3 linked regions of the Homo sapiens genome follow. The protein of the gene in region 1 purifies or fractionates together with the protein of each later gene. This does not show direct contact. Each region holds a gene or a part of one and is shown in the gene's direction. Other genes may lie near its edges. The genes, in order: CDO1, RERE and ANGEL2.

What was found.
Region 2: the proteins of CDO1 (region 1) and RERE purify together in Homo sapiens (affinity purification with mass spectrometry; 2 studies listed by BioGRID and IntAct, with this or other methods). This does not show direct contact.
Region 3: the proteins of CDO1 (region 1) and ANGEL2 fractionate together in Homo sapiens (co-fractionation; one large-scale study listed by BioGRID). This does not show direct contact.

The regions. Positions count from the first base shown.
Region 1 is NC_000005.10:115,806,564-115,810,216, reverse strand, and holds part of CDO1 (cysteine dioxygenase type 1), read left to right. Parts: intron 1-519; exon of another isoform or gene 520-595; intron 596-1,523; exon of another isoform or gene 1,524-1,767; intron 1,768-3,653. UniProt on the Homo sapiens protein: Catalyzes the oxidation of cysteine to cysteine sulfinic acid with addition of molecular dioxygen.
Region 2 is NC_000001.11:8,653,634-8,657,286, reverse strand, and holds part of RERE (arginine-glutamic acid dipeptide repeats protein), read left to right. Parts: intron 1-845; 5' UTR 846-989; coding exon 990-1,314; intron 1,315-3,653. UniProt on the Homo sapiens protein: Plays a role as a transcriptional repressor during development. May play a role in the control of cell survival. Overexpression of RERE recruits BAX to the nucleus particularly to POD and triggers caspase-3 activation, leading to cell death.
Region 3 is NC_000001.11:212,995,368-212,999,020, reverse strand, and holds part of ANGEL2 (protein angel homolog 2), read left to right. Parts: intron 1-1,702; coding exon 1,703-1,866; intron 1,867-3,653.

The DNA.
Region 1 (3,653 bases):
AGCTCTGATTCATTTACCCAAATAATGTGAGGGTTGCTATCTATAAGGCACACCAGATTTCCAAGAAAATTCTGTTGTCTGTACATTCACAGTAAAGCTTTCAGAATAATTTCAGAAGTAAAGCATTCACACACCTTTCAGAATAATTACTTTCAGCTGGAGTCAGAGTGCTTGTGAAAATAGATCAGATCTTTAAGAATAGGTAAGCTTTTTAAAGGTCTTCAATGCAAAAACCTATAGAATCTCAACAGATAAGGAAGTGGTATACATCAGGGATAAAGCTGTGGTGAGGCCTGGTATGAACTGGAGTATACAAGCCTCATATTAAGGTGACAGCAGTGGCCACCCAGCTCCAGTGAGATCAACCTGGTTTCTTTTTCCATAGAAGTTGGAAATTCTGGGTTTTATATGAAATTTTGCCAATTATTAAAATATTCGGTGGGATATGTTAATTATTTCTGTAGACTAATTACCCAAATAACTTAAAAGCCACAAATTTTCAACCTCTGATTCTTACAGATGCAGGAGTAGGGGTGGAGATGGATAGTGATCAGGGGGAAGGATGTTGCAAGTACAAGGAAGAGCACAAGTGAAGGTACAATTGTTGTAAAAAATGGAAACTATTCAAGCATTGGGGGAAGGAAAGAAAGAAGAATGGGTTTGGTCAGTGGATTAGCAGGAGAGTAAAGTGAGCTCAGGGTATGGGCCTGCAAGACCAGCTAAAAGTAAGGACTTTCTTTGGTCAGCAGAGTTATAATTGGGAATATCTTGATCGATTTGGTGGCAGCATGCAACATAGGGTGGAGGAGAAGGGAGGACTGGGGCAAGGAGACCAAGTTGCCTATTGTAATGAGCAAAAGGTCGACCGGGCCTGGACCTAACTCTGCTTCATAAATACCCCCAAGAAAAGTCCAGTATTACTGTGACAGAGGGTACACCATGACCATAAAGGAAAAAGAAGCAAAGATCAAAATATAATAATAATGCCTGGATTATTAATAGGAGCTTCTCTAAAGGATGGGTGTCTTGTTTTTGCAGGGTCTTTGCTTGCAGGATTGTCAGCATGCATTAGATGATGCGTGGACCTGCAGTGTTGAACATTTGTTCAAAACTGTGCTTTAGCCAGTATATTATGAACACAACAAGCTACAGGATCAAAGAATTTGCAGATCTGAGAATTAGGCACCAGTTTTAGAAATAAGGAAAATGAAAGATCCTAGAATGTGTGGCTTGTTCAAAGATAGCATCGCTAATTACCTAGAAGTAGAACTTAAGTCTTCTGGTTCTATGCTTCATTCTTCTTTATGATGTGCACTCATGGAGCTAGATCATAAAGAAGAAAGCACAAAGCCTCATGGGGTGCCTACATTAGTTATGCTAAATTCATTACTTGATTAATCCCTGAAACTTTCTTGTAACTGTGTAAGTTTATTAACATTTTTTAATTGAGTATTTCATCTCGTTTTTTTGTTTTGTTTGTTTTGTTTTGTTTTTGTGTGTGTGTGTGTTTAATCTTCTTGAAGATCTCTCTCCCAGGGCCTCTTGACTGCTTCAGCACAGATTCGTTGATCTCTAGGCCAGGGGTGAGCTGTGATCCTGAGATTCCTTACAATGTAAGGCTTACATTCTCTCAAGCTTTCCCTTTGCTGTTTCCTGTGGCTGGATCCCCTCTTTACTGATCTCATGATTTTTTTTCATTCTTGGTTGATGCCCTTGTTTTGGTGGAGCATATGCTCCAATGGCTCCACAAGAAAGGATCCATGGAAGGTAAATTTTTGAGACCCCATATATTTAAATATCTCTATATTCAACTCCTACAACTTGATTGATAATTTAGCTGGGTTATGGATTATCACCTGATAAACATCTTCCCTCAGAACCATGAGGGTAATTCCTTTGTCTTTTAGTTTCTAGTGTTCTTATCAAAAGCCTAGGGCTGGCCGGGTGTGGTGACTCACACCTGTAATCCCAGCACTTTGGGAGGCTAAGATGGAAGAATTGCTTGAGCCCAGGAGTTCAAGAACAGCCTGGACAACATGTTGAAACCCCATCTCTACCAAAAATACAAAAATTAGCTGGGCATGGTGGCAGGTGCCTGTAGTCCCAGATACTTGGGAAGCTAAGTGGGAGGATCACTTGAGCCCGGGAGGTGGAGGCTACAATGAGCCAAGATCCCACTGCTATACTTCAGCATGGACAGCAGAATGAGACCCTGTTTTTGTTTTTTTTGTTTTTTTTTAAAAAAACCTGGTCCCATTCTGATTTTTGAATCTTTCTATTTTCTTTCTAGAAACTTTTGGGATCTTCTCTTTTGGTGCCTTCTCTCTATCCTCAGTATTCTGAAATTTCACAGTGATGTATCTTGTTTGATGACTCATTCATTGTGCTGGGTACTCAGTGGGTTTTTAAATCTGGGAATTCGTGTCCTTCGACTCAGGAAAACATTAACAGGTTATTTCTTTGAATTTTTTTTTAATTCTGTTTCTGAAACTCCTATTTAGATATTAAACCTCTTGAACTGTTCCTCTTTTTTTTTTTTCTCTTTCTTTTCTATTTTCTGTCTTTGTCCTTTTGTTCTTTGAGTCTTCCTCAGCATTTCCTGCCAACCCTTTTCTGGTTTCTGTTTCTTCAACCTCTTTTTGTTTTATGGTCCCTTTTATGGTATTTTCTCTTATTTCTAGGAAAACATTAATGATAGGTTTTTGAACACTTCCCCTGAGTAGTCTCTGTTGCAGGTTGCTTTTTTGTTTGCTCTGCCCTCTGTCTTTCATACTAGAGGCCTTGCTCAAATGTCTGGTGACCTTGGCAATGTGCTAATATTTAAAAACCAAGAACAAAAAAATTAATTGGTAACCCTGAACATGAGTGGAGCTTGTCAACTGGATTTCACTTTTTGATAGTCTGGCAGAGACTTTTTCTTCAGGAACTTCCAGCGACAATATCTTTAAAGCTTTTTTCTTGAGCCAATCAGATTCTCTGAGAAGTTGCTTCCTATCTTCTGCCTGGAAAGAAAAATCTTGTCTGGCAGCATTCTCGCAGCTAGGTGATGACTAAAGCAGGGATTTTTACCATTCAGTATGGAAGCTTTTGTTTAATTCACCTGTTTTTCACCTGATTTCCATCAGTCCCAAGTTGATCTCTTACACTCTTTCTAGAGACTAGACCTTACTCTGCTGCTGAAAAGAAAGAAGAGAGAGAATTGGTAAAAGGGTTTTGAGACTCTACTTCATAAACAAGCTTTAAACCAGTTCTTATATCTACAGCCTATCTTTACCCTCATTTCCAGAAGTACCTGGTGCTGTCAATTCCTGTGCTATTTGGAGTTTCAAGATATAAATCAGGTTATTTCTTGGTTTTCTCCATGGATAGCTTAGGATTTAGCTTTCTCTGCTCTGTAAAGCTATCCATCTTACTTTCTAAGCTTTCAAATTTTTGTTAGTGTTTTCTCTTTTCCTATTTTGTCTTTGTATATTGATGTCTTTTTTATTTTTTTACTGCCATTGGAGAGGGTTTTCAGGAAGGAGCAGAGGCTAATGCATGCGTGTCACTTACTATCTTTAACTGCAAGTTCAATTCTAATTAATATCTATTCCATTTGCATCACAATTGATTCATGATCTCAGATGACTCACAGAGATTTTACCTACAGCTGT
Region 2 (3,653 bases), on another chromosome or scaffold:
GTCGCCCAGGCTGAAGTGCAGTGGCACAATCTCGGCTCACTACAAGCTCCGTCTCCTGGGTTCACGCCATTCTCCTGCCTCAGACTCCTGAGTAGCCGGGACTACAGGCGCCCGCCACCACACCCAGCTAATTTTTGTTGTATTTTTTAGTAGAGACAGGGTTTTACCACATTAGCAAGGATGATCTTGATCTCCTGACCCCGTGATCCATCTTCCTCGGCCTCCCAAAGCGCTGGGATTACAGGCGTGAGCCACCGCGCCCGGCCTATCCTGAGACATTTTTGACAGTGCTGCAAACTATTACTATTTTTTCAGGTAGAAATATTTTATTTTATGTTGGAGATGGGATCTCGCTTTGTTGCCAGGGTTGGTCTTGAACTCCTGGCTTCAAGTGGTCCTTCTGGCTTGGCCTCTCAAAATGCTGGGATTACAAGGCATGAGCCGCAGTGCCTGGCCTGGAAATAATTTTTACTACAGATTCTTTCCTCTTTAAATTAATATTATGAGTTATGAAGCTCCTTTTGTATAATAATACCCATTATATGTTGTCTACCAGGGTATTGGTTTGCTTTTTCTTTAAAAAGGAGAAAACATGTAAGGTGGAGGAAGTGTAGTTTACTCTTAGGCATTCAGACAGTTTTTATTATTGGTGTCATAAAAAACCCCAAACCATTTGCTGAGACCAAAAACTGTAGTTTTTAAATTTTAACACTTAATTTTTCTCCTGTGGCTTGTGCGAAGTTTTTAGGTGTAAAGCATGAATAAGTAAGAGATTCATTTAACAAAACATTATTTTAGGAAACAAATATGAAAAAGCGTTAAAACCATTCTTTTTTCTCTCCTAGCATTTTTGAAACGTTGGGGTTGTTGGAGTGGTTGGATTTTCCCTGGAATTGAGTGAGAAATTCAGAAGACTGAAGCCCAGGCTTACTGTCTACCTTTCACGGAGGCCTAGCCGTGAGAGGACAGAAGAAGGCACGTGGCGAATCATGACAGCGGACAAAGACAAAGACAAAGACAAAGAGAAGGACCGGGACCGAGACCGGGACCGAGAGAGAGAGAAAAGAGACAAAGCAAGAGAGAGTGAGAATTCAAGGCCACGCCGGAGCTGTACCTTGGAAGGAGGAGCCAAAAATTATGCTGAGAGTGATCACAGTGAAGACGAGGACAATGACAACAATAGTGCCACCGCAGAGGAGTCCACGAAGAAGAATAAGAAGAAACCACCGAAAAAAAAGTCTCGTTATGAAAGGACAGATACCGGTGAGATAACATCCTACATCACTGAAGATGATGTGGTCTACAGACCAGGAGGTAAGGAGCCTTACGTTTGGGTCTTGCCAATGTTTACAGTGGGGGAATGATCTTGGCATTATGGTGAAATAAATACGCTTTGTACACTTTAAGGAAGGCTTGGAATCTAGAAGAGTAGGAAACTTAATTTGGTAAACATGTGACCCACTTTTGGTCAGTTAGGTTCACCCACTTCTTGCTTGTGTCTGCCTTAATTTGCTCTTGTGTCCTGGTTTATGCATTCATGAGTTCTTTTCTTATTTTCCTGTGCTGCTTGTTCTCTAACTGGACCATCTGCTTAGTATTTTTTTGTCTTTTGAATTCATGCTTGCTTTTTAATCTTCAATCATAAATGAGACTGTGGTGACCCTGCAGAATTGACTGCTTGGTGGAGACAAGTAAACCTTAAGATTCTTGGAAACAGGAAATTTTACCTTGGGACAGGATCGACCAGACTCTAGAGAGGTACTTTTTAAAAATGGCCTTTAGGCCAGGCATGGTGGCTCACGCCTGCAATTCTAGCACTTTGGGAGGCTGAGGCGGGTGGTGACCTGAGGTCAGGAGTTCGAGACCAGCCTGACCAACATGATGAAACCCTGTCTCTACTAAAAATACAAAAATTAGCTGGGCTCGGTGGTGTGCACCTCTAATCCCAGCTACTTGGGAGGCTGAGACGGGAGAATTGCTTGAACCCAGGAGGTGGAGGTTGCAGTCAGCCGAGATCACACCACTGCACTCCAGCCTGGGCAACAGAGCGAGTCTCCGTCTCAGAAAAAAAAAAAAGCCCTGAAGATCAGAGATGTATTGCTCCTGCTAACTTCCTTTTCCAAAAATTTGAGCTTCAGGCTCTCTAATCAACAATAATAGAAGTAGTCATCTAACCTGCTTGGTTTTCCAGAAAATGTATTATGGTCACACCAGTATATTGTGGCTTATAGCATTGCTCAAAAAAAGACAGACTCAACTTTTAGATGAGATCAGGGAAACAAGTGAGTCAAAACCTGTTGAACACTAGCAAAGCCTTTCCTTTTCATTTGATGTATTGTGTGTATTAAGACACCTTTTTTAGGCTGGGCACAGTGTAATCCCAGCACTTTGGGAGGCGGAGACAGAAGGATTGCTTGAGCTCAGGAGTTCAAGACCAGCCTGGGCAACGTAGTGAGACCCCCATCTTTACAAAAAATTTTTACAAATTAGCTGGGCCTGGTGGCACACACCTGTAGTCCCAGCTATTCAGGAGGCTGAGGCAGGAGCATCACTTGAGTCTGGGAGGTCGAGGCTGTAGTGAAGCATGATTGCACCACTGCTTTCTAGCCTGGGCAACAGAGCAAGACCCTGTCTCAAAAAAAAAAACAAAAAAAAACAAAACAAGATCCTTTCTTACAGAAGCCAGTAAAACCTAGGTGAAATCATTTTGTTTGAGTTACTTTTACTGTTGAAGAGTGACATGAATTTTGTATGAGATGTAATTAGCAGATTAAAGCTGCCCATTTTTATGTTTTTCTGAGAAGGAGATTAAAATACTTCACTGTGTTATGTCCATAATCTGGAACAATCATTTTACTGAGGAATGCTGTTACTGTTATGAACTTCACGTCAAGTTCCAGATTTTCATTCTCCCACACAGGAGTTTTTTAAATTTCAAAAGATGTCAGTGGGGCTGGGCACGGTGGCTCATGACTGTAATCCCAGCACTTTGAGAGGCTGAGGCGGCGGGAGGATTGCTTGAGTAGTGTGGAGACCAGCCTGGGCAACATAGTGAGACCGTATCTCTGCAAAACAGTAAAAAATTAGCTGGGAGTGTGATGAGACTGCAGTCCCAGCTACTCAGGAGGCTGAGGTAGAAGAATCCCTTGAGCTCAGGAGGGCAAGGCTGCAGTAAGCCCCGTTCACATCATAGCACTGCAGCCTGTGCAGCAGAGCAAAACCCTGTCTCCACCCCTCCCCCCCGCAAAAAAAAAAAAAGTCAGTGCTAGAACTTAATACAGACAAATTTGCATTCACAGCTACAATTTCTTGGTTGGAGATTAACTGAGAAGGTATTTGTGTGATATAAATTGATCAGAGTGGAGGTTTTAGAGCAGTTAGAAATCTGCTGTAACGATTAAATGATGTGTGTAGGTTACAGTACTGTCTGTATTTATCTTTGATGTAGACTCAGCTATTGGGCAGTAAGAATTTCTTAGTGACTGAAGAATCTCTCAGAGTTACCACAGATTGCTTGTTTAGGGCGTACGCACATCTAAATCATGGGAAAGGAACAAAACATGTTAACCCTTTTTTTTTTTTTTTTTTTTTTGAGGTGGAGTCTCGCTCTGTTGCTTAGGCTGGAGTGCAGTGGCGCGATCTTGGCTCACTGC
Region 3 (3,653 bases), on another chromosome or scaffold:
TGCACGTGTAATCCCAGGTAGGCTGAGGCAGAGTATTGCTTGAACCCTGGGGGGCAGAGGTTGCAGTGAGCCGAGATCGCACCACCGCATTCCAGCCTGGGTGACAAAGCAAGCCTCCGTCTCAATAATGATAATAATTTTAAAAAATAGATACCTTACTTGCCCTTGGTGTCTAAAAATTAAAAGAAAAAAAGAGGCCGGGCGCGGTGGCTCACGCCTGTAATCCCAGCACTTTAGGAGGCTGAGGCGGGCGGATCATGAGGTCAGGAGATTGAGACCATCCTGGCTAACACGGTGAAACCGCGTCTCTACTAAAGATACAAAAAAAAAAATTAGCTAGGTGTGGTGGTGGGCGCCTGTAGTCCCAGCTACTCGGGAGGCTGAGGCAGGAGAATGGTGTGAACCTGGGAGGTGGAGGTTGCAGTGAGCTGAGATCATGCCACTGCACTCCAGCCTGGGCGACAGAGCAAGACTCTGTCTCAAAAAAAAAAAAAAAAAAAGATACTTTTTTGTATCTTTATGTAAATACAGAGTGTTTATATGCATAGCTTATATCTGTAAACTGAAAAATTGATAGATAAGAGTTTGCAGAAGACCTATTTTTATTTATTATTTTTATTTGAGAGTTGATCTCACTGTCATCCAGGCTAGAGTGCAGTGGCATGATCTTGGCTCACTGCAGCCTCCACCTCCCAGGCTCAAGCCTTTCTCCTACCTTAGTCTGCCAAGTAGCTGAGACCACAGGCATGTGCCTCCACGCGTAGCTACTTTTCTAGATTTTTTTTTTTTTTTTGTAGAGATGAGGTCTCACTGTGTTGCCCAGGCTGGTCTCGAGCTCCTGAGCTCAAGCAATCTTCCCGCCTTGGCTTCCCAAAGTGCTGGGATTACAGGTGTGAGCCACCGCGTCCGGCCCTATTTTATGTTTAATATTATAAATCCTTAGACATAAAAAGTTGCTAATAAAACTTAGAGGGCATTTTTAAGGATTTACCTTTGTTCCTGACATATGAACACTTTAAAAGCAAGGGAAACATCTTCATCTATGTATTCTCAGCACCTGACATATTGCCTAGAACTTAGAAGATGTTTGGTAAATGTTTGTTGGATAAGTTTCTTTTTTAATTTTATTTTCCTTCAAGGCATAAAAGATCCTTAAGATTCATAAAGTATCACTAGAAAATAGTCTTTAAACCTTTTACTCATAACATCACATATATTTGTGCATGGGGCAAATATAATAAACCATTAGAGAAGCTGTTTTAAGATGCAGTACAAAATTATATGTGATAGCAAGAAAAATTAGAGAAGAATATGGCCTCTCTGTCATCAAAAGTCTAGAGGATTCCAAATAGTGTTCCTGAAGACCCCCTTGATTCTCTTTCTTAAAAACACAATAAAACTTGTTAGAATACATGTTCTTTAGTAAGTGGAGGCATTCACACGTTATAAATAATGAAAAAACACATTAGTATGTTAATTATTGAGCTTTTTTTAAAAACCACATTTATAATGGCTTTATTGATGGGTTTTAGATATCACTGCATAAGTAAATTAATACTAAATTATGATATGGTCTTTTTAAATAAAGCTTGTCCTAATGTTTGGTCTTAGTCTAGAAATTAAGTGAAAAAGAAATTCAGATAGGAGGAATTCTTGAAGTTACAAAAACTCGGATTCTAAACACTTCTTCTTTTCTATTTAGATTGTCTTCAAATTTACAGCACCATTTCAGTTTGTCATCTGTTTATTCACATTACTTTCCTGACACTGGAATTCCAGAAGTGACCACCTGTCATTCCCGAAGTGCCATAACTGTGGATTATATTTTCTACTCTGCAGAAAAGGAAGATGTTGCTGGGCACCCAGGTAAGGAATGCATGTAATCTTAAATTCTCCTAGAGAGCACAGTAGCTAAAACCTCAAGGTTAAAGTTAAGAAAGCTCTCTAAACATCCAGTTGAAGTTCTAGATCTAGAAGGTAAAAATATTTCGAAATAGACAGATTGGTAATATATTTGAATAAATCAGTTGATTACTTGCATATGAGGGAGGCAATAAAACACATCCAAGCAAATTATTACCCAAGAATTACATTAGCAGTCCTACCCTCCAGTTCCAGTCAGCCTCTGAGTTATAGGTCTTTCATATTGCCCTTTCTTTTTGCTTGCCATAAATTTACTGTTTTTCCTGTGACAGGAACTGAGTATGTTGTTAATGGTCATCATAGTTTTGTGCTTAAATTTTACCGAGGCGTCCTGCCTTCATTGGAGGACCATAGTTACACTGCCAGCAACACAGCTTATGCTGTCATGTTGACTCTGGAATATTGGATTTTTCTGAGGAGGAAAAGTATATATATATATATATATATATATATATATTTTTTTTTTTTTTTTTTGGATACAGAGTCTCGCTCTGTTACCCAGGCTAGAGTGCAGTGGCATGATTCTCGGCTTACTGCAACCTCTGTCTCCCGGGTTCAAGTGACCTTCCCACCTCAGCTTCCCGAGTAGCTAAGACTACAGGCATGAGCCACCATGCCCACCTAATTTTTGTATTTTTTGTAGAGACAGGGTTTCACCGTGTTGCCCAGGCTGGTCTCAAACTCCTGGGCTCAAGCCGTCCACCTCGGCCTCCCAGGGTGGCTTGGATTACAGGCATGAGCCACCACATTCGGTCAGAAAAGTCTATATAATTTTTTTGTTTGTTTGTTTTTGAGACGGAGTCTCGCTCGTCGCCCAGGCTGGAGTGCAGTGGCGCTATCTCAGCTCACTGCAAGCTCCGCCTCCCAGGTTCACACCATTCTCCTGCCTCAGCCTCCCGAGCCACTGGGACTACAGGCGCCCGCCACCATGCCCGGCTAATTTTTTGTATTTTTAGTAGAGACGGGATTTCACCGTGTTGGCCAGGATGGTCTCGATCTCCTGACCTCATGATCTGCCTGCCTCGGCCTCCCAAAGTGCTGGGATTACAGGCGTGAGCCACTGTGCCCGGCCGAAAATCAGGTTTTAAACATTAGCCAAAGGATTTAAAGTGGAGAAGAAAATGCAGTTTAAGATTACTGGAAGTACAAAAATACCTTTAAGAAAACTTTGGAATGTGAGCAGCTGTTTTATTCTTTTCTGATTTTTTTCATTTTTTTCTCTTCCATTTTTTTGGATGCTTCTTTTTCTTTACCCTTTTCCCCTCTGTTTGTTCCCCCCTCCTTTCTTCTGGGAATAACCTTATTAGTAACACTCACGAGATGACTTATTCCTGCCACTAGATCTACTCTACAAAAAATATGCCTGCTGCTTTGAATTTATAGTAAGGTTTTCGTAGTTGTCATGCTGACAGAAGTTCACTTGGTGGCAGGAGAGTGTTATGGATCAGCATTTCAAAAAGAGCATGTCATCTTCACTTCTGTGGGTGCTGACTATCTGGGACTAAATTATACTAATTTATTCTCCATTCACCTTATAAACTGCTACAGGGCTGTGGCCCGGTGTCTCTGGCTTTATGCAACTACAGAATGGTTGCTGGATGAGTTTCTTATGTAGTTGTCAACCACAAATTACCCTTAACATTCTTAAGTATTTCATTTATATTTTCTTCTAAAGATTGTTTACAGAGCTGGAAATAGAAAAAATATCTCAAACTGCTGTGTGTTTGATA